Regions from separate parts of the Homo sapiens genome. Here regions 2, 3, 4, 5, 6 and 7 are each linked to region 1. The links come from fine-mapping of genetic effects on gene expression. A gene starts in region 1. Each other region holds a variant in brackets. All regions are shown on one strand. Distances are from middle to middle.

Region 1 (4,000 bases):
TAATGAGTTCACTGTAGGTGTGTGGATCCGTTTCTGGGTTCTCTATTTTGTTCCATTGGTCTATGTGTCTGTTTTTATGCCAGAACCATGCTGTTTTGGTTACTGTAGCTCTGCAGTATAATTTGAAGTCAGGTAATGTGATTCCTCCAGTTTTGTGCTTTTTGCTCAGGATAGCTTTGGCTGTTCTGGGTCTTTTGTGATTCCATATAAATTTTAGGGTTGTTTTTTCTATTTCTGTAAGGAAAGTCTTTGGTATTTTGATAGGGATTGCCTTGAATCTGTAGATTGCTTTGGGTAGCATGGACATTTGAACAATAAGGATTCTTCCGATCCATGAACTTGGAATAGCCTTCTGTTCTTTTGGTGTCCTCTTTAATTTCTTTCATGAGTATTTTATAGTTTTCATTGTAGAGATCTTTCACTCCTTTGGTTAATTCCTAGGTACTTATTTTATTTGTGGCTATTGTAAATGGGATTAATTTCTTTTTCATACTGTTCACCATTGGCATACAGAAACGCTATTGATTTTTGTATGTTGATTTTGTATCCTGCAACATTAGTGAATTATTTAATCAGTTCAAATAGTTTTTTGGTGGAGTCTTTAGGTTTTTCCAAATATAGGATCATATCATCTGCAAACAAGGATAATTTGACTTCTTCCTTTCCAGTTTGGATGCCCTTTATTTCTTCTCTTGTCTGATTGCTCTAGCTAGAACTTCCAGTACTATGTTGAATAATAGTGGTGAAATTGGGCATCCTTATCGTGTTCCAGATCTACAAGGAAAGGCTTTCAGTTTAGGAAAGACATCTTTGACCTCAGCTTGGTTCTGAAAGGTCTCTCCCTGACCAGTATTTTTTATGGCATTGAAGTAAGAGCACTGGATTTAAACTCAGACACTTTTGCTTGATTATTGATGGTACTTACTAGCCTGTGCCAGAATAACGTCTTAGAGCCACCCCTGTGCTTCAATTTCCGTATCTGTAAAATACAAATAATATGTACCTCATAGAAGCATTATACAGATAAAAGAAAAATGCATAGAAAAGCTGTAAAGATCCTGAGCTTTAAAGTACATCCATACTCAGCAAAAAAGAAAACAGGAAAGAAAAGGAACAAATCACTAATACCTGCATGAAACTCAAAAGCATTATGTTAAGTGCCAGGAGCCAAAAATCTGTACATATTTCATGATTTCATTTCTGTGACATTCCAGAGAAGGCAAAACTGTGGAGACAGAAATCAGATCAGTGGCTGCCAGGGGCTGGGTGTGAGGTGAGAGACTTTAGACAAGGGAAATTTCTCGCAGTGATAGAAATGTTCTATATTTTGATCGTTTGGTGGTTACACAACTATACATGTTTGTCAAAACTCAGAATTGTACACCTCACAGGGTGAATATTACTGTATGTTAATTATACATCAATAAATCTTACTTTTCAAACATTGGAGGAAAGAATGTCCTATAATATACTTCGTTATGTGTACAGTCCTTTGGGATAAGGAGCTAATCGACTGACTACTCAACCAGTAAATACCTATTCCAAATTTTTTGCCTCTATGTCCTGTTGTTCACAATAGCACGTAATATGATTTTTTGCTAATATAGAATGCTTCTCTGCTTGCAGCTTAAAATTTTTTTTTAATTAGAAGGGCACTGAACACTTCTCTTCTAAAAAGTTCAACTAACTGTTGCTCTGCCTCAAGGAATGGGGGAAAGCACCAAGAGAATAATAAGTCAGGACTGGGCTATTAAATAGCCCAGAAGCACAGAGAGGTGTGGGAGGTGGGGGGATTCTTGCTTTGGTCTCCAACAGGCGAGAAGCACTGCAGTCCTATAGCAGGTCATTGTGTCGATAATAGGCGTTATCTTGGTTTGGAGAGAATGTCCAACTCTGGATTGTTCAGTGTTAGTCAGACTTGTGTGGTTAAGGACGGCCTAACATTCACTTAATTAAAACACCAGTCAGATACACGCAGAGATTGAGGCGTGCAAGTCTCTGGGAGCAGGCGGACGCGACTGCCCACGCCCCACACCCGCCGGCCCTCCCTTCTCATTGGCCGCTGCCCAGCTGCTCCGACGCCCGCTTCTATAAGAGACAGGCAGCGCGGGGCCGCCGGCCGACCCAGCCTGCACCTACTGGCGCCCGAGGTGAGTGAGGCGGCCCTTCCCGCGGGCACCGGGGACCGCCGTCGAGGCTTTGGCGGCGCTTGGCAGGCGCGGGGCTGGGCAGAGTCACCCTCCCGGGAGGTAAATTGGTGGTCTTGCGGAGTCAGATTTGGGAGGTCGGAGTTGTACCCCTATAAACGCTTACTATTCTTTCCTCCCACGCTGTTTGGGGAGAAAAGACACTTTCTGAGTGCCTCCTGTGTGCCAGGAACAGACTCTTTAGCCATCATGAGATTTCACCTTCATGACAAACTCTGGTAGATATTTCTTGAGTCCCCAGATGAGGAAAGTGGGGTCCAGAGTCCAACCCAAGTCTGTGTGACTCCTCTATGTTGGCAGAAACAGTAAGATTTTTCTTCCTTCCCTTCCTCTCCATCAAAGGGCAATGTCTCTTTTTTTCTTCTCCTCCCATGAAGGGAAGCTTCCCTTAAACAGCCTCCCGAAGAAGAAGGAGTCTCAGATGCAAAGCTTCTCAGCATCGCACTTACCATCATCACCACCATCCCAACAGACGACTGAGAGCTTTTTGCAAGGTCGCAATTGACAAAGAGGACTAGGTCCTTGCGGTTTAGAGTCAGTTAAGAGTCCGTGTGAACTCAACCTTGCCTTTGGCGTTTGATTTTCAGAGGTTTAAAATGAACTTCTCATTGATGTCCCACTCTACTTGACTTAGCAGGAAAAAGACTAGAGTTGAACTTGCTAACCCAGGAAAAGTTTGTGCCTGTTAGTTAAAAAAAAAAGGGGGGGGTGGAATTCTAATATCAATGTTTCTGTAAAGTTATAATCTGTGGTTTACATATGTTATCACTGAGGTCCATTTGTACATGTATTATTAGATTATCTCCAGATAGGGATGTGTCTTCTATTTCCATTTTCTCTGCCAGTGCCTTTATTTCCTAGAATACTGTTTTTCATGGATAGTGTTTTCTTTTGTATTTCATCTACACTTTCATCCTCATTCCCACTCCTTATTTAGAAAAGAAAATCAAGACTCCGTAGAGGATTCCCTCCCTCTGAAAGAATCCTCCTTGCAGTTTTTAGTTCTGTCTTCAAACAATATCCATGCTTTCAAAAGACTAATTCAGTAGTGCTTTGTGCTTCCTAGATCCGGTAAATATAAATTACACTTGTTTTACTGATTAAACTAAGGGAAGAAAAGAGTTGGTCATTGTATACGCCTTGACCTCTCCCAAGGGTCGGGTCTGTTGATCTTCTGAGTGTCTTCTTGGTATTTTTTCCTTATTTCCAGTGGTATGTCCTACACAGTGCATCCTTAGGCCAGGAGACGCAGTAGGAAAATGACTCTACCTTTCATGAGAAAAGGGTACCAGTTGGTATTAGCTGATCAGAGAGTTGCTTTAAAAATAAAATGCTTATGTATTGATGAGACACTGATTCAAACAAGTGTGACCTATTTTATCTTACCAGGTTAGTATTGTGTTTTTTTGTTTTGTTTTGTTTTGTTTTGTTTTCCTGAAAGAGTAGGAGGAGGTGGGTAGGTTGAAAGGGGAAAGGAAAAAGTAACAAGGCAAAATATTGAGGTTCTGAAAGCGGTTTGGGGTTAACTGGAGGAAAAAATAACTGATGCCTCATAAGCTCTGTCAACCAAGCAAAGTTATGGCCAAGTTTTAGTAACGATCAAAGATCTATGTCCTGTAAGATTATTTTGGGGTGGGGGGGAACAAAAAAGAGGGTGAGAATTTTCTTCTAGTTTTCTAGTTTCTTAGCAAAAGTTCCTTTTGAGAACCTTCATTTTTACCATGACTTAAACAAGGAGGAGTGTTTCCACATCTTTTTTTTTGAGACGCAGTCTTGCTCTGTCACCTGGGCTG
Region 2 (4,000 bases), 140 kb after region 1:
TGGAAGAAAGTGGGGCTAGTGGAGGCAGGATGGTGATTGGGTCTAGTATTGCTGATACAGGCTTATGCAGAGAGGACTGCCTGCCCTTGGCCAGATGCTGCGGGTAGCCAGTGCATCCCCAGGGTCATATACTACCCAAAAGGACAGGCAAGCAAGAGTTGCTAGTGCAGATATTTTTTCTTTCCCTCTGTCTGTTTAGCCAGGGCTGACCTAACTCACAGTCATTTGTTTCAGAATGTCAGTCCCTGAGATGGGCACAGACTTTACAGTTTGTAAGGATCCTTTGCACCCATTATCTCATTGGAATCTCACAGCAGTCCTATGAATTAAGTAAGATAAGAGTTATTGCTCCATTTTACTAATGAGAAAACTGGGGCTAGGATAGGGTAAAGTAGCTTATTCTACAGTTGTGTGGATGTAAAATATGAAGGCTGTGACTTGTTGAAGCTGGAGCCGAGAGGCCACTTGTCAGGGCTGCCTTAGGTGGAATGTATACACATTGTGGTAGAAGAAGTAGTGAATGCTTTGGCTCCCTCATAATCTAGCTGGGTGATTCTGCGCAAGTCCTTTATTATGCCTCTCACTTTTGTCAGCTATAAAATGGGAATATAGCATCTATTTAATAGGATTATTCGAAGATTAAAATGATCATTCATTATGAAAGTGTTTAGTACAATGCCTGGCATACATTAGATGATGTTCAGTTCGTTCCTTGGTTTTTAAACTTTTTAATTTTGAAATATAGATTCAGAGGGAAATTGATACAGATGATCCTATATACGCTTCACCCAGCTTCCCTCAATGATAGAATCTTATGTAACTGTCGTATCATATCAAAATCAGGAAATGGGCATTGGTACAATACCTCTTGTTAACTAGGCCACAAATGGTATTCAGATTCCCTGTGTTTTTTTAAAGAAAAATTATATCATTTCTGAGTTTGTTTCTGGTTCTGAAATGTTTTTATACAGTGTCATCATTATCCTTGACTTTTCTCTGGCATCTAACTTTTTAGAAGCTTTGTTCTCTGTTGGTTTTCATAACACTGTGTATTTCTCCTTGTCATCCCCCTGTCTCCTTCACCATCTTCTCTTCTTCTCTTCTATACTGTATGTCTCCCAGATTCAGTTCTTAGCCCCTGCTCTTCTCTCTGTTTGTTTTGTTTTGTTTCTCCCTCTTGGATAGGGTCTTACTTTTATCTTTATTCTGGAATCAGTATTCCCACCTCCACTTACCAAGCCCCTCTCTAGTTCCCTGTTTTTGACTATTTGCTGAATATAAGCTCAAACTCATCATATCCAAAGCTAAATTTGTCATTTTTTTAAACTCCAAACTACTACCCAGCTACCTCCACTTGACTTCCCTGCTTCCATTAATGAGTTGTCATTCAAAAACTGCTCAGGGCTGTACGAGGGGACTTTTTGGTGATAGATATGCTCATCATCTTGATTGTGGTAAAGATTTTACTAGTGTAGGATGGGCATGGTAGATAATGCCTATAATCTCAGCACTTTGGGAGGCTGAGATGAGCAGATTGCTGGAGCCCAGAAGTTTGAGAACAGCCTGGGCAACATGATGAAATCCCATCTCTACAAAAAATACAAAAATTAGCTGGGTGTGGTGGTGCGCACCTGTAGTCCCAACTACTTGGGAGGCTGAGCGGGGAGGATCACTTGAGCCTGGGAGGTGGAGATTACAGTGAGCCAT[C/T]GTGCTGCTGCACTCCAGTCTGGGCAACAGAGAGATCCTGTCTCAAAAAAACCTAGGTGACAAAGAAAGACTGTCTCAAAAAAAAATTTTTACTAGTGTGTACATATGTCAAAACTTATCAAATTACACACATTAAATATATGTGTGTGTGTATATATATGTGTGTATATATATTTTATATATATTTTAATATATAAAATATATATATTATATATAATATATATATAATATATATAAAATACCTCAATAAAACTTAAACAAAAAACTTCCCAGAGCCAGACATGAATCCTGGCCCCATCACTCATACAAGTTACTCACCTTTCCTCTGCCTCATTTTTCTCATTTGTAAAATGAGGGTTATAACAGTAATTTACCATATTGGATTGCAGGGAAGATTGAGTAGGTAAAGTGCTTAAAACATTACCTGATACATATTAAGTTCTTCAAAAGTATTTGTTGATGTTCCTCTCTTATTCATCTCATGTGCCCCATGTCTGGCACAGAATAGGTGTTTAATAAGCGTTTGTTGAATGAATGTTGCCACAGTCTTGAAGTACTATTTTCCCTCCCTGACTTTTATTTAAATATTGCTTCTTCTGTAAGGTCCAGCTTAGGTTCTACTTGATCTGTGAGGTCTTGTCTACCCACCTGAGCCACGAGGCCCTCCTGGCCACCCTCCTCTATCCCCAGCACTGATGCTTTGTATTAGCGTATTTGTTACTGATTCACAGCCAGATTTTTGGTTTTGCCTTTTTTTTTTTAAAGTGGCTTTCAGTATAGATATCTTTCTTCTTCATCTACATTGGACATCTTCTGAGGGCACATGTAATTTCTGATTTTTTTTCTCTATGTCCTCTTCGCCTATGCTGGGCATATAGTTGGTTTTCAGTAAAAGTAGAATGAATGAATGAATGAGTGAATGGTGTATGATTTGCAAAATATTAGGGAGACTTCAGACGACAAATTCCCATGATTTAGCTTATTAAAACAAACCCACAACAGGCCAGACATGATGGCTCATGGCTATAATCCCAGCTCTTTAGGAGACTAAAGCGGGAGAGAATTGCTTGAAGCCAGGAATTTAAGACCAGCCTCGACAACATAACAAGACTCCATCTCTATAAAAAAATTTTTTTTAATTAGCTGGGCGTGGTGGCACATGCCTGTAGTCCTAACTACTCGGGAGGTTGAGGCAGGAGGATTGCTTGAGCCCAAGAGTTTGAGGTTACAGTGAGCTATGAGTTCACCACTGCATTCTAACCTGGGTAGCACAGTGAGACCCTGTCTCTAAGCAAACCAACTAACCAACCCTGAACTTACAAGATTTAGCCTTGGAGGGAAAGAGAGAGAGAGAGAGAGAGTGTGTGTGTGTGTGTGTGTGTGTAGGTGGCAAATGGTTCCAAGTCTGTTCCTCTGAATTCACCTCTTTTGGATCTTAGGGGAACTGTAGGCCTCCTTTAACCCCTTGATCCAAGTTTGGACCCTGACCTTACTGTGAGTCCCCTGAGTGCAGCTGAGGCAGGCTGGCAGTGTTCTGACTTGTCTGAATGATAGTGCATGAGAGATAGGGAACTAGACAAAGAGAGAAGAAATGTGAAGCATCTGGCTCACTTAGTCTAGGACACTCAGTCTCTGGCCCTAAGGGGTGGATGCAACTCCCCTAACTCTAGCCTGGTCCTCTGCTTTCCAGCTGCAGCCCCTTGCCTCTGTGGGAGGTCTAATCAGAAACTTTCCCCCCAGGAGCTCCTTCTTGGATATATGACATTTTAATGTCTAAGATTGGAGGACCTGGTTTCTACTTCTCTGAATACACACTTCCTTTATTCAGTTTGAGAGATATATCCAGGATGATCACTATTCAGGTGACACTTCTGCCACTCCACTCTGCACAAATGTAGTTCTGGTTTGTCCTTTATTTGACTCTAATAGCATGATGATACCTTAGCCATATCATCAAGAAGACATCTATATTCTGATAGTTACACAAAATAACACATTATTCTGTGCCATCCCAGCTGGGCCCTGATCCTGCTTACAAGTTCATCATTATTAATACCATTCCTTTGGATTAAGCATTGACCTTTCCAGCAGAATCTCCCACTGGGAATGGTAACATATCAGGTTCCTCATACCTTGGAGTACATTCCTTTATCAACATGTGTTCTTTCTCGTCACAAGGAATCTGGAACAATTTATAAGCTCTGGATTCCTTCAAACAGAAGAGACAGCTTCTGGCCAAATAATAATTGTCAATTACATTGCTCCTTTCATTTACGAAGTGTTGTATGTCTCA
Region 3 (4,000 bases), 110 kb before region 1:
CAAGTTTTGTCTCAGAGGAGTACCCAGCCATGTGAGGTGTCAGTCTGCCCCTACTGGGGCGTGCCTCTCAGTTAGGCTACTCGGGGCTCAGGGGCCCACTTGAGGAGGCAGTCTGTCCATTCTCAGATCTTAAGCTGTGTGCTGGGAGACCCACTGCTGTTTTCCAAGCTGTCAGACAGGGACATTTAAGTCTGCAGAGGTTTCTGCTGCCTTTTGTTTGGCTATGCCCTGCCCCCAGAGGTGGAGTCTACAGAGGCAGGCACGTCTCCTTGAGCTGCGATGGGCTCCACCCAGTTCAAGCTTCCAGGCTGCTTTGTTTACCTACTCAAACCTCAGCAACAGCAGGCGCCTCTCCCCCAGCCTTGCTGCCGCCTTGCAGTTTGATCTCAGAGCTCTGTGCTAGCTATGAGCGAGGCTCCATGGGCATAGGACCCTCTGAGCCAGGCATGGGATATAATCTCCTGGTGTGCTGTTGGCTAAGACTGTCAGAAAAGTGCAGTATTAGGGTGAGAGTGACCCGATTTTCCAGGTGCTGTCTGTCACCCCTTTCCTTGGCTAGGAAAGGGAATTCCCTGACCCCTTTCACTTCCCGGGTGAGGCGATGCCTCTCCCTGCTTCGGCTCATGCTCAGTTTGCTACACCCACTGTCCTGCACCCCCTGTCCGACAATCCCCAGTGAGATGAACCCGGTACCTCAGTTGGAAATGCAGAAATCATTTGTCTTCTGCATCGCTCACACTGGGAGCTGTAGACTGGAGCTGTTTCTATTCGTCTATCTTGGAACCGCCCACTCCCCCCTTGCTTTTTTTGGTGTTTTCTGACACTGAAGGGTTGAACATATACCAGGGGGAAGAGTCGGGAGAGCAAGACTTTGGTTTTTGGCTTGTCCTGCTGGGGTGACCTGGCTGGCTCTCTCCAGACTTGACTGTATTTTAGTTCACGGTCCACTAATTTCACAAAATAGATGTCAACCTCTACCACTTCAAGGCCACAACAGACATCACTCGTTGTTCAGAGCACTCCATCCTTGAGCCTATTATTTTTTTCTTTTATTTATTTTTTCATTTTATTATTATACTTTAAGTTCTAGAGTACATGTGCACAACATGCAGGTTTGTCACATATGTATACATGTGCCATGTTGGTGTGCTGCACCCACTAACTCGTCATTTACATTAGTTATATCACCTAATGCTACCCCTCCCCCTCCCCCACCCCACGACAGGCCCCGGTGTGTGATGTTCCCCAAATGTCCATCAATGATAGACTAGATTAAGAAAATGTGGCACATATACACCATGGAATACTATGCAGCCATAAAAAAGGAGGAGTTCATGTCCTTTGTAGGGACATGGATGAAGCTGGAAACCACCATTCTCAGTGAACTATTGCAAGGACAAAAAAACCAAACACTGCATGTTCTCACTCATAGGTGGGAATTGAACATCCTTGAGCCTTTTAAGAGGGTTCTCACAACCATGTCCAAATGCCTGTGGTGGCAAAAGAAATGAAACATTTATGTTCTGATTGCCATTCCCAAAAAACTCTATGCTTTTATTTGCAGTGCCACCAGGAATTACCTTTTCTACCATTTCCA[TCTGTCCAG/G]ATCATATTTAGCTTTCATTGCCTAATTCAAAAATGTATGTGACTGGTTGAAGAGACAGAGGGTACAAGCTGGGCGAATTGTAGAGTTGTCACTTCAAATTCCAAGTATTTCAAGAAACCTTCCCTGGTCTATTCACCACCCTAGACACACTTATTAATGGGGTTTTTACCCTTTGCTCCAATCTCAGTGTTTAATCCTAGTGGATTTTGAGCCATCTTTGCCAATATGATAAGCATGTGTAATAGGATCTTTTCTTCCACACTCTACTGTAGCTTCTGGAAAACAGGAGCTAAATTCCATCTATTTTTATAGTCACCATTTGTGCACTGACAATATTGGTGCCCAATACATACCACACTATTGTCTGAGTTCTAGGTAATTTTCACATGTGTGAGAAGAATATATGCTCAATGTCATTATAGTCACGATGTAGATATGTGATCTTCTGCATCTGCCTGACTCTCAATGATAGTTACCTTCAAGTCTATGGTAAAGTAAGCTCCCACCAATGGTTTCTTTTACCTGGACACAACTGGCATAAGATTCAGACTAGAGAAATCTCATAAACTCACTAGCTGCTTCAGTGGCCTGGATAGGGCATGTGACCCAAGTTGGCATGGAGTCAACATGAGAATCCAGGTTCCCTGACTCCAGGTCCACTGTTCTTTCCAATCTAGCATTGTCCATTCTGCATCCCTACATATCCCAGGATTTCCTGATGTTAAGTTGGGCTTTACCGGCGGCAAGGGCTTCCTCTGTTGGAATACAGGGTGGTGGAAGCAGGTAGTTCTGTAATGCCTATGGCCTACACACCTGTAGGGACTCTCCTTGAGAAATGTTTCCACAAATTGTGCAGTGGTGATACATCAGACTGTAGACTGAGCAACGTTACAAGATTCGGCAGAATGAGTTTTGCCCTTCCATCAATTGTAAACCTTTTGCTGAGGATGTATTTCATCCTCATGTGTAGCCACCTGGTGAACCCTCCCTTAATTTTTGGAACCATATTGTCATGCGTACGAGGGAAGTTGGATGTGATATTCCCCTTCAGGATGGGAGTAAGAGAACTGAGAGTTTTTAGATGCCTCCTCCTTTGAGCACCCTAGACCCACAGATGCAGCTCTGTAATAGCATGTTTCACAGTGTGCAGCAGTCTTCCCTGCACTAGGCTCCATCCTTTTACAGACTGTAAGCTCTGTGAAGATGGGTATGTTTTCTCTGATGCCCCAGTGTCTGGCATGCAGGCTAGAAGATGGATGATTCTCAGTATGTATTTATAGAATAAACAGAAGAATGAGCATATGACATTGCTATGAAAAGCCAACTTAGTGACAAATTCAGCACTGAAAGTGGACAGTTCAAATGCAAAGGTCTATTAAACGGCATTTGTAAAAAAAGATATATTTATAATATAAAAATTTATTTGTAAGTAGAATTCACTTACCAAAAATGAAGGAGATGAAGGACTTTCCTTTGAGAAGTGTTCAGCAAATAGAATTCTACTCTACCTGTCTTGCAGAAAGCACATCCATCAAGCATTGTCTATCACTTGCAGTTTGACTTTATTAAAATGGAGATCATAGCATCATATGAAAGAAATTCTGCAGGAAGATGTTTCTCAATATTGTTAAATTTTTTCAGTGCAGAACAGTTGTCAGGCTCACAGCTAAAATTCGATAACAATAATTTTGAATCCAGCCTTTACTGCTCCTTTTAGCATGCACATTAGTTTTCACTGAACCTACACTTTTACTTTCATACTCGTATTTCATTGATTTACATTGTATTTTGATAAATCAGGCACAGCATGCTTCACTTAACAACAGGGATACATTCTGAGAAATGCATCCTTAGGCGATCTCATTGTTGTGTGAACATCATAGAATGTCCTTAGACAAATCTAGATAGTATAGCCTGTTATATGCATAGGCTACATTCTATGGCCTATTGCTTCTAAGTTACAAACCTACACAGCAATAACTGTACTGAATAATGTAGGCAGTTATAGCACAATGTAAGTATTTGTGTTCTAAATACATCTAAACATAGAACAGGTACACTAAAAGTGTGGTACTAAAGATTAAAAAATGATATTCCTGTATAGGGCCCTTACCACGAATGGAGCTTGCAGGACAGTGAGTTACTCTGGGTGAGTCAGTGAGTGGTGGGTGAATGTGAAGGCCTAGGATATTACTGTACACTACTGCAGACTTTATAAACAGTGTACATTTAGGCCACACTAAATTTATTAAAAATTTTTCTTTCCTCAATAATAAATTAAACTTAGTTTACTGTAACTATTTTACTTTATGAACTTTCTAATTTTTAATTTTTTCTCTTATGTAATAACACTTAGCTTAAAACACAAACACATTGTACAATTGTACAAAATTG
Region 4 (4,000 bases), 28 kb before region 1:
GCTGGAGTGCAGTGGCGCAATCGCGGCTCACTGCAACCTTCACCTCCCGGGTTCAAGCGATTCTCCTGCCTCAGCTTCCTGAGTAGCTGGGATTACAAGCGCATGCCACCATGCCCGGCTGATTTCTGTATTTTTAGTAGAAACGTGGTTTCACCATGTTGGTCAAACTTGTCTCAAACTCCTGACCTTGTGATCCGCCCACCTCTGCCTCCCAAAGTGCTAGGATTACAGGCGTGAGCCACCATGCCTAGCCTAGCTAATTTTTATATTTTTAGTAGACAGGGTTTTACCATATTGGCCAGGCTGGTCTGAAACTCCTGACCTCAGGTGATCCGCCTGTCTTGGCCTCTCAGTGGGCTGGGATTACAGGCGTGAGCCACCACACCTGGCCTATTTATTGATTTTGTAGAGATGGGTTCTCACTGTTTCCCAGGCTTGTCTTGAACTCCTGGCTGCAAACAATCCTGCCTCAGCCTCCCAAAGTGCTGGGCTTGCAGGTCACCACACCTGGCCTTCCTGTTAAAGGTTTATAAAAGCAAATAAATGATACACAACTTAAGCTTTAATTTGATTATGAATGATGCTTATTCCTTTTATGTCATTGGGCTAGTCAAACTTACAAGAGCCTGGGCCAATGTAGTCTTGAGTCTTGTGGGCCAGTCCAGCAACCAAAAAAAAAACCACAGGTGAGACTGGAAGCAGGAGGGAACCTTGTGGTGGTGCTGCTAGCCCTCCACTCACCTCTCATACTATTTGTTCATCAACCTGACTGCTTTGTATTTCTATATAGAATGCAAAATCTGCATCGCTAAGCTTTTATGATGTATCTTAGATAATTTGCATGAGGTCACATTTGCTTAAATCCAATTTTATACAACCCAAGGAACATCTGTAATATAAAAGCCAGAAAACCTCCATAAGTTCACATTTCACAGCCAAGGATTTCGTAATATCAGGCTACTCCTTCTATCATTATGATTGTGCCCATGTGATTGCCCTTTCTGAACAACTGTGTTTTCCCTGGACGTTTGCAAGATTCTATAGTGTAGTAACATCATGGAGTAGGGCATTCTCATTTTATCCTAATTGTTCATGCCTCAGGGCTCTGGCAAGGATCACAATTCTGGGAGAGGGTCATGCCACACTGAAATTAGACCTGGAGGGGAGAGGATCTGTACCCAAGGAGGTGGCATCAGGGTCTGCTCTGAGTCCCTGTGTCACCTGGCTTCCTTATTTCCGTTTCTTCTTTCTTAGGACTTCAGCTTGTCTGTGGTCTCTCAAGACCACACCAGCCTGTCTTTTTTGGGGGGTTGTGTTCTGCCAGCTTAATCACTTTATTCTCTTGGTATTTCTTTAAATTTGTGAGAGAGAAATTCTTGCGCAGTTACTAGTCTTTTTGTATCAAGCAGTGTGAGTCACCTGTGATTTGGCTACTTTGGGCTAAGTGTGTGACCCAACACAATCAACTAAAGTTGAAATTAAAATGAGTGTGATACGAAATTTACCTCAGGACACAGAAGGATGTGGTAGACACCAGACTTAATTTCCTGTTAGAGATGACCGCCATTTATTGAGGATTTACTATGTGTCAGATGCTCTGTAAAGGTCTTTAGGTATATTATTTAATTTTGCAATAATCCCATAAGGTAATTGTCACCATTTTATAGATGGAGAAATGAAGATTCAGAGTGGTAAAATAACTTGCTGAAAGTTATTTAGGTAGTAAGTAGCTGACCCAGGGCTTGGATCTGGACCTGCCTAGCCTAATGAATATTCTTTTAGCCACTATACTGTACTTGCATACTGTGGGGAGGCATGGACTGGAGCATGAAGGTCTTGATAGATCACATGGAAGAGACAGCTAGGCTATCTGCACATCCACGTTCCTTTCTCCAAAATTGCCGCTGGACTGCCCACATTCTTCCCCCGGTTACAGCGTATGGTTTAATAAGGGAATTACTCCTAACCCAAGCTGGACAACTCAGGTTGGCTCAAGGACACAGGACTCTAGACCACGTAACTTACAAGGCTGAGGGCACTATTTGGGAGGAGGCAGCCAGTCATATTTATCATCCACTATGTACCAGGTATTCTAAGGACTAGGAAGACAGCAGTAAACAAAACAGACAAAATCTGTGTAATAGAAATACTGTGGACAAAGCAGAAAAAATCTTGACCTAGTGGGCCTGGAATTCCAGAGTCATGTGTAAGAAGAACAGAGGAAGAAGCTGGTCTGCA[T/C]AGAGGTCATGCATCCTGTAGCAGACTGGATCATTATTCTCGATTCTTCACCTCTGTGTATCGTGCCCTTGCCATGGCTTCTCCGTGAATGGAGTGTACTTCCCTGTCCCTTGACTTTGAGCTTGACCAAGTCACTTGCTTTGGCCAATAGAATGTTAATGGAGCTGATGTAAGCAGAGTACTTTTAGCAGTTTGCTTGTGCTCCTGTCATTTACCGTGAGAAGAGCATGCCCTGGGTAGCCATTGATCCATGAAGGATGAGAAACATGGAGCAAACCTAAACCCAGTCTGCAGCCGGTGCTGGGTGTGGTGGCTTACACTTGTAATTCCAGCTACTTGGGAAGCTGAGGTAGGAGGATTGCCTGAAGCCCAGGAGTTTGAGGCTGCAGTGAGCTATAGTCGTGTCACTGCACTTCAGGATAGGTGACAGAGCAAGACCGCATCCTCTAAAAAAAATTTTTTTTTTTTAATCTGCAACCTGGAGTCCAGCCTAACCTAGCTGAGTTGCAGCCAACCTACAGATCTGTGATGAGTAGTTAAATGATTATTGTTTTGAATCATTGAATCTTGGGGTAGTTTGTTACACGTCTTTACTGAAGTAACCTCTCACTGAAACAGCATGAAAGAAAAGCTGCCTTAATGCTCAGCCGCTTTCCAGCTTCATGTCACAGTCTCATGGGTTCCAGCAGTAATTCCTGCTTTAGGTTGTCTGTAAGATATGCCCAAATCGCTATAGTAAATTTAACTTATAATAAATTCTACTTGGGATATGATCATTTGCATTCCCATCTTTAAAAAAAAATGGCACCGGGAATGGTGTAATAAGTGACAGACAGAGAAAATGTGGAAGTGTCTGTGGGATTACAGAAGGGTAGGATGCAGGGTAGTGAAAGTTCCCCAATTCTGGATGAGACACAAACCATCCATGATATAAGGTTCTGAAGAGCCAACTGATTGATTTCTTGTGTGTCCTTGAGATCTAAACCACAGGCCTCATGGGGCTGAGGAGGATTTTTTTGTAAAACGTAGTGGAAAAGGGAAACTCTCTGGTCCTCAGTGGCACATCACCATGCTGAGTGTGACCTTGAAGGCAGTGAGAAGCCCTTAAAGTGTCATGATCACTGAAAGCCTTCTGAGGGAGGAGGGGCTTGATACAGAGAGGTTTAGCAGTAGACACAACTGGATTTGGGCATCAGTTTGAAGCAAAGGAGAGTGAGAAGTTAAATCCAGAATTCTGGATTAGGTGACTGAATAGATGATGGCGTCATTCATCATGATAGGGAAGTAATCCAGGAAGAGTTGCAGGTAAAGGTGGGTAAAAGACGTGTTCAATTTTGAATACCTGTTGGACATCCACATGGAGATGTCCCATTTCCATACAGACTTGGAACTCTGTGAGAGAGTGGGCTAGAGATACAGCTTAAGGACTTAGGACAAAGCTCCAAGGAATACAAACATTTAAAGGGCTAACAATGTCGATGAAAGAGACAGGTTGTACAGAGACACTGGACTAAATTGGGAGAGATTTACAGCTTATAAGTGACAGTTCACAAGGAAATAGTACATTTGAAGCTGAACACCAGATCCACTGTTCTCACCTCTGAACATGACTGCTCCACCTAGGGCTTAGGAAAAGTAGCTCCGTGTGATGAATTGGCGCTGGACACTCAAAATCATAGCCTTCTACAGAAAGGTTTCCTATAAGGATATTTCCTGTAAGGAACTTATATTTCACACCCATGCTTGACCAAGCAGGTATGGC
Region 5 (4,000 bases), 95 kb before region 1:
CTAACCCCATGCTTTTTATTATCTTTTATGAATGCCTTCTGACCCTGGAGGGCTGCACATATGCCTTCTGACCCTGGAGGGCTGCACATATGCCTTCTGACCCTGGAGGGCTGCACATATGCCTTCTGACCCTGGAGGGCTGGAGGAGGGTATGGAGAGCAGGACATTGACTTTGTGGCTTGTCCTGTTGGCCTGACCTGCCTGGCCCACTCTGGACTTTACATTATTATAGAGTTCACTCCTACGAATATCACAAAATTAACACCAACACCTACTACTTCAAGGCCACAAAAGATAATGTTCATTATTCAGAGCACTCCAGCCTTGTGATTCTATTTAAGAGGGATCTTGCCACCATGACCAGATACATGGGGTGATACAAGGAATAAAACTCATGTATGAATTATTCACCATTCCCTAAAAAACTGTACGCTTTTATTAACAGTGCCACTGTAAATTATCTCTTCTTCTATTTCCATCTGTCCAGATCCTATTTATCTCTCCTTCCCTAATACAAAAATTTGTGTGACTGGAAAAATTTACAGAGGGTATAATTATAATAATAATGCTGGGTAAATTGTAGTCATCAGTTAAAATTCCACCTATTACACGAAGCCTTCCATGATCCACTCACTTCTACATACACACTTAGGGATAAGATCTGCTGTGTCTCTTCTCTCCTTCCTTGTGTTTGCATCCTGCAAGGTTTCAGAAGAATTGGACCAATATGATGGGCATGAGCATTGAGATTTCTTCTTCTATACTCTGCTGTTGTTGTTAGATAACAGCAAACAAATGCCATCTATATCTATAGTCAGCATTGGTACATTGACAATAATGGTGCCCAGTGGATACCACACCGTCATACAGAAAAGCATCACAGCAGTCTCTTTGGATTCTAGGTCACTGCCACATAGGTGAGAAGAATATATGCTGACTGTGATTATAGTCACTGTGCAGAGACACGAATTTCTCAGGCGGTCTGGATCATAACAGTACTTATCTTCAGTCCATGTTTATGGCAAAGTCACACCTTGCCCACATATTCTGAAAAGAGATACCTGAGCACAAATGCACGAATGGCACAGTTTCAGACTGGGACAATCCCATAACCTCACTATCTGCTTGGTTTCCCTGGAATGAGCATGTGACTCATGTTGGCCATGCAGTCAGCTTGAGAATCCCAAATCCCTGAAACTATGTCCATGTTCTTCCCATTTTAGCACTTGCATATTCTGCACCCTTCTGTATTCTAAGATTTCTAGATGCTTTGATTTGGGTTTGCCTTGAGGTAAGGGATTCTTCTGCTGGAACACAGGGTAATGGTAGTAGGTAGTTCTGCAATGACTGTGACCCAAGCACCTGCAGTGTCTGTTGAAAATCTTTTCTGGAATTGTGCACTGGTGTGATATTGGACTATAGACTGAGGGCTGTTGTAAGATTCAGCCTATTAATCTTGTGATGTCATCAATTATAAAACCGTTGTTGAGATTGTTGTCCCGCATGAGCAGCCACCTGGTGAACGTTCTCTAATTTATTGGAGTCGTATTGCCCTGCTTCAGCTGGGTGCTTGGGGGTGGCATTCCTCTTCAGGATGGCAGTAAGATAACTTGGAATTTTTAGATACCCTCTCCTCTGAGCACCCTTGAGCCACAAGTACAACTCTTGGATAGCATGTGTCACACTGGGAGGCAGTCTTTCCTGCACTAGTGTCCTTCCTTCACAGGCTGTGCGCTCTGTGAATGTAGGTGTGTTTACTTTGACTCCT[TA/A]AGTGTCTGGCATGCAAGTTAGAGAATAGAAGATGCTCAGTATGTATTTATACAATAAACAGTAGAATAAGTGAGAGATACTGTTATGAAAAGCCCACTTAATGATATATTCAGGAATGCAAGTGGATAGGTTAACTGAAAATGTCTGTTAATCAGTATTCATAAAAAAGGATATGTTTGTAACATGAATATTTCATTTTTACCTAGAATTCATTCACTATAGTAGAACTAGACTACAGAACACTCCTTTGTGTAGGGTTCAGCAAATAGAATTCTACTCTATCTTGCTGAAAGCATATCTATCAATCATTGTCTATGATTTGCAGTGTGGATTAGTTTAAGTGTAGATCTTAGCATCAAATACATAGCATTCTCTCTGAGGATATTGTTCAATATTGTTCATTTTTGTTTAATCTTGTAGAATTGGAAGACTCACACCTATTAAACTAACAATAATTTTGGAACCTGCTTTTATTGTCCCTTTAAGCATTCACATTAATTTGTATGGAAACCACAATTCTTCTTTCATACTGGTATTTCATTGATTTGTGGTGTATTTTGATAAATTAGGTAATTATATTGACAAGTCTAATTGGCAAAAGCAAGACAGGAAACAGATCCAATTGGTTCTTGTGAGGCTGATGACTCAGTGCCCTTGAGCCCAGGTGTACTAGAGCATCAGTGAATGGCTACGAAGGCTCAGCATTTGCTCAGCATCAATAAATATATTTTCTTCATGAAGTGGAAAGGATTGGATATAGAGATAGGATGTATTAGTGAGAGACTTATTTGAAAGGTGTTTGCTTTTATGTAGAATTAGCACAATGCTTGATGAGTTAGGTGTGAAAGTTTGTTGAATTCATGCCTAAAAAATAGTCATGGGCCGGGTGTGGCGGCTGAGGCCTGTAATCCCAGCACTTTGGGAGGCCAAGGCAGGCGGATCACAAGGTCAAGAGATCGAGACCATCCTAGCCAACATGGTGAAACCCCGTCTCTACTAAAAATACAAAAAAGTAGCCAGGCGTGGTGGCAGGCCCCTATAATCCCAGCTACTTGGGAGGCTGAGGCAGGAGAATCGCTTGAACGCAGGAGGTAGAGGTTGCAATGAGCTGAGATCATGCCATTGCACCTCAACCTGGGCATAAATAAATAAATAAATAAATAAATAAATAAATAAATAAATGTGCTTGCGAAACTCCATCTCAAAGAAAAAAAAAAAAGTAGTCATGAATGGTAGCTCCCAAAAGGTGCCACGTGAGATTTTCATATCATTTCTCACTTTCTGGAGAATACTCCTGAATGTCCTGCATGCTCTTCCTCGACATGTAACTTTTAGAGGAAATGATATCATTGGCCTTGGAAAGAAGGCAGCTCATGAGCAGATTCCCACATCCCCTCCGTTCTTCTTCCCAGAGGCAGTGAGCAGACCTGCAATGAAGGGGAACAGCTGTTCTCAGAACGACCAACTGCAGAGGACACTCTGTTGAGTGGGAGGTTCCTGTAGGAGTTCCAGTGAGATCTGGTGACTGAGCCAGCCTTTGCAAGATGCTGGATGACCCTGTGATTTTCAGGTAGGAGCTGCTTGAGAGAAATAGTTACCAACACTCTTCTAAATTCCACACCTAGTCTGTTGCACTAGAAATTCCAAGACAGTTTCTCTGCTCTTAAAGACCTCAGGGTGCGGTTGAAGAGAAAGATGTGAGGACAAATATTTGAAGTACACTGTTATAAGTGCTGTAGTGGAGCAATGTGTGAGGCCAAGTGAGTTCAGAATGGGCTTCAGGGACAGAATCTAAGCCTTCATGAAGTTGAAGTTTTCTCCTATCAAAAGAAAAAGAATGTCACTAACATCAAAATAAGCAGAATCGCAGGTGAGAACCAACATGATTTGATTCAATTGCCAGGTGAAAATTCTCTGCAGAATTCCTCATGATAGACAACATCTTTAGCCAAAACTGTACAATTGATATCACAGACTTCCAGAGTGGACTCTCTCAATAACCCTCAGTCTGAACTAAAGACATCACAGCAAAGCTCCTGGCCCAGAGCATTGGCTGCAAACACTGCTTTCCTGCTTCCTGTCACCTGTAGGAAACTCTCAACTACAGCTACGTCCTACTACAGCATTTGGAAATTGAGGGTGGACAGATAGGATTGAGCATCAGCAGAATGCCAGGCCTGGAAGAGCAATAGATCTGGACTCAGGGGACCTGAGTTCAACATTGTGAACA
Region 6 (4,000 bases), 38 kb before region 1:
GGCGTGAGCCACCCCACCTGGCCTGTTTACTTATTTTAAAGCCAGAGTCTTATTTTGTTGCCCAGGCTGTAGTGCAGTGGCAGGATCATAGCTCACTGCAACCTTGAATTCCTGGGCTCAGGTGATTGTCTCACCTCAGCCTCCTGAGTAGCTGGGACTACAGGCACATGACGCCACACCTGGCTAGTTTTTAAATATTTATAGAGACAGGGTCTCACAATCTTGCCCAGGCTTGTCACAAACTCCTGGGCTCAAATGACCTTCCTGCCTTGCCTTCCAGAGTGCTGGGATTACAGGCATGAGCCACTGCACCCTGCCGAAAAATTTATAAAAAATATCAAGGAAACATGATGTTTGTAATCTTACCATCCCACACATGCACATATATTTAATTCTGCTTTTTAGCCAACATTTCATTTAGAAATATAAAATGAATATTTTCCTATATAAACACATATTCTTTCACAGAATTGTTTTTATGACCACAATTAAATTCATGATTCATTTAGAATTTATTCTCGTGTCACATGTGAAGTGTGGCTTTAATTTTTTTTCCCCCTTTGATAACTTTGGTTCTAGTGGTATCAGTTTTTTCCCAGAGGGCTACCCAGTTATCTCAACATCATTTAGTGAATAATCCAGCTTACCCACACTGATTTGAAATTTCATCATTATTTTTAAAATTCCCCTATATATTCTGTTCAGTTCCATTGCTGTATTCATATATTAGTAGCCATAGTGTTTTTAAATATTAAGGTTTTATGTTTTAATACCTAATAAGGCAAATTCCTCTTCATTCTAAGTTTTCAGAATGTTTTTAACTATTTTTATCACTAACTTTGAGTTCCAAAAACAAAAAATTTCTGACATTTTTGTTGACATCGTGTTAACTTGATAGGATATGTTATGCCCTTTTATTTGTTCAGGTCTTTTTTGTGTCCCTCAGTAATGGTTTCTTCATATGGATCTTGGATATTTCTTATTAGTTTCATTCCTAGATAATTGTATCTTTTGGGTTTACTATTGTCTGTGACATATTTTCTTCCACTGATTATTATTGTTGGAATATATGAAGGCTATTGATTTTGGTATATTAACTTTGTATCCTGTAACCTTACCAAATTCTTAATATTTTTAGTAGTCGTTCCAGTAATAATCTTTGGGCTTTATCTGATAGTGCTTTGGCTTAAGTTAGATATATTTTATCACTTGTCTATCTCTGGTTTATTCTTCTTGTCTTTCTGGGTTGCCTAGAGTCTCTGGTGTAAAATAATAGTGATGGTAGAAAACATCCTTACCTTCTTCCTGATTTTAGTAGGAATAATCCTAGAGTTCCATTGTTAAGCATTATTGGGTATAAGATATATGTTTTACAGCCAGGTGCTGTGGCTCACACCTATAATCCCAGCACTTTGGGAGGCTGAGGCGGGCAGATTACCTGAGGTCAGGAGTTCAAAGTCAGTCTGGCTAACATGGTGAAACCCTGTCTCTGCTAAAAATACAAAAATTAGCCAGGCTTGGTGACGCATGCCTGTAATCTCAGTTACTCAGAAGGCTGAGGCAGGAGAGTTGCTCGAACCTGGGAGGCAGAGGCTGCAGTGAGCTGAAATCACGCCATTGTACTCCAGCCTGGGCAGCAGAGCAATACTCCGCACCCCCCCTCCAAAAACAGATATATGTCTTACCATTTAAGGAAATATTAATCTGTTTCTATTTTATTAAGAGTTTTTAATAAAAAAGGAATGTTGAATATTTTTAAGATCTTCATTTGTAGATACGTTACCTCATTGAGAAGGTGGCATTGAGTACAGTCCTTAGGGACAGAATGGAGGGAGTCATGTGCATACTTGGGGAGAAGAACATTCCAGACAGAGGGAATGGAAAGTGTAAAAGCCTTCAACCAGAAGTATGCCTGGTGTCTTTGAGGAGGAACAGTGAGATCCCATATGGCTGGGGTGGATTTAGCAAAGTAGCACATGGAGCCAGAGAGGTAGAGTATGGAGGGCCTGATGTTGCCTTTTCCTCTGAATGAGGTGGGGAACCATGGTGGGTTTTAAGCAGAAGTTGCCTACGCATGAGCTGGCTTTAATAGGCTGCTGTTTTGATGAGAAATAT[G/A]GGGAGTCATGGGTACAAAAGGGACATGAGTTAGGAGGCTTTTAGAGATTCTTCATAATTGACTCATAGCAAGAAATGTTATAACTTGGACCAAGATGGTAACAGTGGTAGTGGTAGAAAAATCCTGTGAGCTAATTTTTTTGTACTTTTTGTAAAGACACGGTTTCACCATATTGCTCAGGCTGGTCTCGAACTCCTGGGCTCAAGCTACCCGCCCATCTTGGCCTCTCAAACTGCTCAGATTACAAGCGTGAGCTACCACCCCTGACCTCCTAGGGTATTTTAATTGCTGATGCTTCATTGCTTTAGTTCTCAACTCAATGTTACCTTGTCAGAGAGCTAGCCCTGCTAGGCTGCTATATTATATTCCTCTTTTATTTCCTTCATAGAACTTAACCAAAACCTGAAATAGTCTGTTTTATTTACTTATTTGAAAGTATAAAAATGTAAGCCTCTTATGGGCTGACATCTTGCTGATGTTACCAGTGTATCTGTAATACCCAAAATAATAATGTCTAGCACTAATTCAATACATATGAATGAAAAACCAAACTTAACTGGCCAATTCCATGCTTCTTGATTTGTTTATACAGTAGATCTTCCTCTAATTGACAGCCTCATTCGGGTCTTACAAAATATGGAACAGTGTCAGAAAAAACCAGAGAACTCGGCAGAGTCTAACACAGAGGAAACTAAAAGGACTGATTTAACCCAAGATGATTTCCACTTGAAAATCTTAAAGGATATTTTATGTGAATTTCTTTCTAATATTTTTCAGGCATTAACAAAGGTAGGAAAGAAGTATTGATGATGTCATAAGCAAAAGAAAGTGTGGGTTGCTTAACGCTTCAAACTTTATTTTTTTTTAAATATGAAAGTAATATATAATTTGGGAAAATAAAGTAAAATCTTAATATCACCATGAGTTTATAATCTTAAAAACAACTAGCTGATGTGGTTTGGTATATTTACGTGTGACAGACATATGCCTATGTTTGCATGCATGTGTTTTTATAAATGCATTTTTCATATACTTTAACCCAGCATATGCAATTTTTATAGACTACTGTTTTCCCTTAACACTGTATTATAAACATTTTTCTTGATTCTAGATGAAAGACTTTTTTACTGAGAGCCAGTTTAAACCTAATTTACCAAATAATCAGTTTTCAAAATTTACTGCAAACTTCTTTTAAGGAACATTCTCCCTGAATATGTTCAATGGTTATTAATATTCTTCTTTTGACCATGTTTTTTCTATCCATATATTTGGAAAGAAATGTATTATGAATATGTTATGAATATATTGTATTATGAATATAAAATGTTATAAATATAGCTGTGAAGAATATATTTATTCATACCCACTTAATTTTTTAAAGAGTATTCCTTAAGAAGTTTCTCTTGGCCAGGCGCCTATAATCCCAGCACTTGGGAGGCTGAGGCAGGTGGATCACTTGAGCCCAGGAGTTTGAGACCAGTTTGGGCAACATGGCAAAACCTCATCTCTACAAAAAATACAAAAATTAGCTGGGCATGGTGGCACACGCCTGTGATCCTAGCTACTTGGGAGGCAAAGATGGAAGGATTGCTTGAGCCCAGGAGGTCGAGGCTGCAGTGAGCCCAGACTGTGCCACTACACTCCAACCTGAGCGACAGAGTGAGACCCTATCTCAAAAAACAAAATGAAACAAAAAGTTTCTCTTATTCTGGTGATTTTTTTTTTATTAGTTGTCTTGCTTCCCTTTTCCATATTTGTATTTTCCAGATTTGGGGTTATTACCTTAGCAGGTTTTATATAATTTAAATTACTGGATTCAACATTATAAATGTGAAGATGGCTAAGTCATGATGGCCATATTTTGTCAAAATGCTATTTATATGT
Region 7 (4,000 bases), 51 kb before region 1:
TGCTTATGAGTGTAATGGGGCTAACAATGATAACTAGTTGATAGAGTTGTTTTGAGAATTAAATGAGATAGCATGCAAGCCACTTCACTGTGCCTGGCATTTAATACTTGTTCAATGAATGTTAATTTTATTACTGTTGGTGTTGATATTGTTAGGCCACCCTTGTGCTACTCCAGGAATTACCATTAAATTTAAAAATTTCTGCATGTGGCAAAGAATTGCCCACAGGACAGCTTGATCACTTACAGTGAAGAGAATCTGCCATTATGACTTTCAGTTTAGAGTGTATCTTTGAAAATACTATTTTCTCTGACCATGGTCCTTTAGTAAGTAGAGTGTGTCTCTCTCAGTCAGTTGTCTGGCAGGTTACTGGTTTCACTTGCTGTGGAGAATAATTGCCTGTCTCTTTGAGATGTTCCAGGGCCCTTAATTTTCACATAAGCCATGCAGCTTATATTTTAAGTTAAGGCTTCTCAAATACACACCTCACATTTAGTGAAAATCTGAAGCAGTGGACAGCCAGAGACTTAATTTTATTTATATATTTTACATTGCAGGTCCCCAAGCAAACTGACTTAGCTTTTGTGTCTTACATTCCTAGGTGAGATTTGGCTCATTTGGGGCCACATGTCCACTCACATGTCACCTGTGTGTTACGCCCCTTTAGGCACTGTGGCAGACTCTGTAGGAAGAAGTTATGAGGCTGCCACAGTTACATTGTGATCAGAATTTTTATTCTATTGATGATTTTGAAAACACAAATTCTGGTTTTGGACAGGACCCAATAGCAGTTCTTGACTTCTTTCCCCTACCGTGTTTTAAGCTCTTGGAGGACAAGAAGGAATTTTGTTTTTGTTTGAGACAAAGTCTCACTCTGTCGCCCAGGCTAGAGTGCAGTGGCGAGATCTCAGCTCACTGCACCCTCTGCCTCACGGGTTCAAGCAATCCTTCCACCTCAGCCTCCTGAGTAGGTGGGACTACAGATGGTACACCACCATGCCCAGCTAATTTTTGTATTGTTTGTAGAGATGGCGTTTCACTATGTTTGCCTAGGCTGGTCTCGAACTCCTGGGCTCAAGTGATCCGCCTGTCCTGGCCTCCCAAAGTGTTAGGATTACAGGCGTGAGCCACCTCGCCCAGCCAAGTTTTACCTTTTTTTTTTTTTTCCTTTTTTTCTCGCTGTGTTGCCCAGGCTGGAGTACAGTGGCAAAGTCATGGCTCACTGCAACCTTGAGCTCCCCAGGCTCAAGTGATCCTCCCACCTCAACCTCCCAAGTAGCTGGGACTGCAGGCATGTGCCACCACACCTGGCTAATTTTCGTATTTTTTGTGGATATGGGTTTTCACTATGTTTGCCCAAGCTGGGCTCAAGTAATCCACCCACCTCGGCCTTCTAACCAGCCTCCCAAAGTGTTAGGATTACAGGTGTGAACCACTGCGCCCAGCGTGTTGCTTTTTTCCCTTGTCCCCCGCTTCTAGTTTAATACCTGATAGGTAATCACCAAATGTGTTTGAATGTGTTTAATGAGAATTCCTAGTGGGCAGAAAAATTATTAAGGTAAATAGATTCGGGCAGAAAAGAGTGGGATAATCCTCTGGAGTATTGTAGGTAGTTTAGATTTGTTTATGAAATTGTTCCATTGTCTGGGACTAGTTACCATAAAGACTCTCTAACATCACTTTTGTCTGTTGACACAGTTCCTAAGCCTGTGTTTTTTTTTTCTTGTGTCTAAAATTCTAATTTTATTTTATTTTTTTATTTTTTTTGGAGACAGAGTCTCGCTCTGTCACCCAGGCTGGAGTGCAGTGGCGTGATCTCAGCTCACT[G/A]CAACCTCTGCCTCCCGGGTTCTAGCGATTCGCCTGCCTCAGCCTCCTGAGTAGCTGGGACTACAGGTGCATGCCGCCATGCCCGGCTAATTTTTTTGTATTTTTAGTAGAGACAGGGTTTCACCGTGTTGCCCAGCTGGTCTTGAACTCCTGAGCTCAGGCAATCTGCCAGCCTTGGCCTCCCAATGTGCTAGGATTACAGGTGTCAGCCACTGCGCCTGGCGTAAAATTCTAATTTTAATATAGAATTTTATGGTTGCCTGAGCTTTAGGGTTTAGGGAGGAATATTCAACATCCAAGTTAATAATCATTTTTCTTTTCAGGACGTGGCTTTATTTCTCCAAGAATTTAATGCTCCTGATATATTCATGGGAGTACTGGCCAAGTCCAAGTGTCCTCGATTAAGAGTAAGTATGTACATTTCTAAAGCCTTCTTCTTTGAAGCAATAAGAACAGATAGTGCTGGATAGTCTTTTATTTTTCTCACTTTGATTTTCTTACTGACCATAAATCAACAAATCAGCCTGTAGATGTTAATTGAACATTGCCAGGTCCTAGGTAATTTGCTATTTAAATTTATTTTATTTTATTTTTGAGACAGGGTCTCACTATGTCTCCAGGGCTTGGAGTGCAGTGGCGTGATCACGGCTCACTGCAGTCTTGACCTCCTGGGCTCAAGGGACCCTCCCACCTCAGCCTCCCAAGTAACTGGGAGTATAGGTGTAAGCCACCACACCCAGCTAATTTTTATTTTTATTTTGTGGAGACAAAGGTCTCCTTATGTTGCCCAGGCTGGTCTTGAACTCCTGGCCTCAAGTGATCCTCCCACCTTGGCCTCCCAAAGTGCTGGGATTATAAGCGTGAGCTAAATGCCTGTAATAATTTAAAATATTAAATTATTAATAATTTAATAATTTAAAATTATGAAAATCATAGAATTTTAGATTCAGGCCGGACCAGGGAAATTAGCACTTTCATTTACCAGCTGTGGAGACGAGTTAGGCATAACCACTGTTATGCTGCTAGTATGTATCAGAACAAGGAACAGAGCCTGGGCCTCCCATTTTTCAGTTGATTTCTCTTTTTTACTGACAAAATCCACCATTGCTTGAAAACCATTCTAAACTCAGCCTGCTGCTTAAGACCTCTACTCTCTGAACCTAACTCATCTTTCCAGCATAAAATCTGGATAGCCAGGTAACCCTTCTGATTTAGCCAGACCTTTCTACTCCCTGTCTCATGCTGTCTCCGTGCCTCCCTTTGTGTGCCTTCTGTCCCCTCTCAGTATTTGCATCTGTTAATTCACAGTGGTACTTTTCCTTCCACACCTTCCCAAGTAAGTAAGTAAGCTTTCAGTAGTCATTGCTGTTAGTAAACTGCCAAGAACAATAGATAAAGACTAAAGGAGAGGCCTTTATATACTGTGCAGTGTACTGTGCTTTATTGCCAATTAAATTGCCATGTGCTATGCATATCATGGATTAGTAAATATCTGTTCAATAATTATAATTATGAAAAACTGCTGTTTACTGAATACCTGGTCTTACTACTATGAGGTATACTTTCAAAGAACTAAATCTTGGGTGAAGATATGTGTTCAGGGTCACACAGCTAGGAAAGAATGGAGCTGAGATTTCAGCCTAGGCCTGACTTCAGTATAACCACTGTACTGTATTTCCTCTCTTTCAGATTATAAAATGGAGAATTCCATAGTGTATTTTTACAAATTGAATGTTGAATTAGAATTCTTATTTAAGTAGAATGTTCTCTCTGAATTAGGGCCTGATTAACCGTTTTTTCCTTGATTCCTTATATTAATATAAGATTTGATGATTATGCTATTTTTATACTGAGTTTTTCTGTCTTAAATATATTTACTCACTACTAGTATATAAAGAAATAAGCTTATGTCAGGAATGGCACCTTTTAGGAATTAGTCATATTGTTGTATTATATCCGCTGGCCACCGTCTGCTGCCACAGTGATTCTCAGCCTTGGCTGCATGTTAGAATCACCTGGGACAGGGACTCTCAAACTTAAGCATGTCCCCGCATCACTAATTGCCGAGCCTCCCTCCAGAGTTTCTAGTCCAGTAGGTCCAGGATTCCTAATATGTTCCCAGGTGATGCTGGTGCTCTGGTGCATTGCCACACTCTGAGAAGCTTTACCCTAG

Evidence for each region. PIP is the estimated chance that this variant, and not a neighbour inherited with it, causes the effect.
Region 2: its variant is fine-mapped to the expression of TPH1 in visceral fat (GTEx, PIP 0.95).
Region 3: its variant is fine-mapped to the expression of TPH1 in gastroesophageal junction (GTEx, PIP 0.99).
Region 4: its variant is fine-mapped to the expression of TPH1 in lymphoblastoid cells (GTEx, PIP above 0.99).
Region 5: its variant is fine-mapped to the expression of TPH1 in lymphoblastoid cells (GTEx, PIP above 0.99).
Region 6: its variant is fine-mapped to the expression of TPH1 in unexposed skin (GTEx, PIP above 0.99). The same link has a PIP of 0.9 or more in atrial appendage, esophagus mucosa, esophagus muscle, fibroblasts, lung and pancreas.
Region 7: its variant is fine-mapped to the expression of TPH1 in whole blood (TOPMed, PIP 0.92).

Annotation. Positions count from the first base shown.
Region 1 is chr11:18,044,391-18,048,390 of GRCh38, reverse strand. It overlaps TPH1 (tryptophan hydroxylase 1), which reads left to right and starts at 2,122. Exons shown (of 11, transcript NM_004179.3): 1 at 2,122-2,150.
Region 2 is chr11:17,909,262-17,913,261 of GRCh38, reverse strand. All of the region lies in intron 9 of SERGEF (secretion regulating guanine nucleotide exchange factor), which reads left to right. Among named protein-coding and RNA genes, the nearest start is that of SERGEF, 100 kb to the left of the region's middle. The variant C/T (reference allele first, on the strand shown) is at 1,708.
Region 3 is chr11:18,154,581-18,158,580 of GRCh38, reverse strand. No RefSeq gene overlaps it. Among named protein-coding and RNA genes, the nearest start is that of MRGPRX4, 16 kb to the left of the region's middle. The variant TCTGTCCAG/G (reference allele first, on the strand shown) is at 1,598.
Region 4 is chr11:18,072,590-18,076,589 of GRCh38, reverse strand. No RefSeq gene overlaps it. Among named protein-coding and RNA genes, the nearest start is that of TPH1, 28 kb to the right of the region's middle. The variant T/C (reference allele first, on the strand shown) is at 2,239.
Region 5 is chr11:18,139,794-18,143,793 of GRCh38, reverse strand. No RefSeq gene overlaps it. Among named protein-coding and RNA genes, the nearest start is that of MRGPRX3, 9.2 kb to the right of the region's middle. The variant TA/A (reference allele first, on the strand shown) is at 1,769.
Region 6 is chr11:18,082,440-18,086,439 of GRCh38, reverse strand. It overlaps SAAL1 (serum amyloid A like 1), which reads left to right. Exons shown (of 12, transcript NM_138421.3): 10 at 2,709-2,905. Among named protein-coding and RNA genes, the nearest start is that of SAAL1, 22 kb to the left of the region's middle. The variant G/A (reference allele first, on the strand shown) is at 2,116.
Region 7 is chr11:18,095,005-18,099,004 of GRCh38, reverse strand. SAAL1 (serum amyloid A like 1) reads left to right here. Exons shown (of 12, transcript NM_138421.3): 3 at 2,151-2,234. Among named protein-coding and RNA genes, the nearest start is that of SAAL1, 9.1 kb to the left of the region's middle. The variant G/A (reference allele first, on the strand shown) is at 1,828.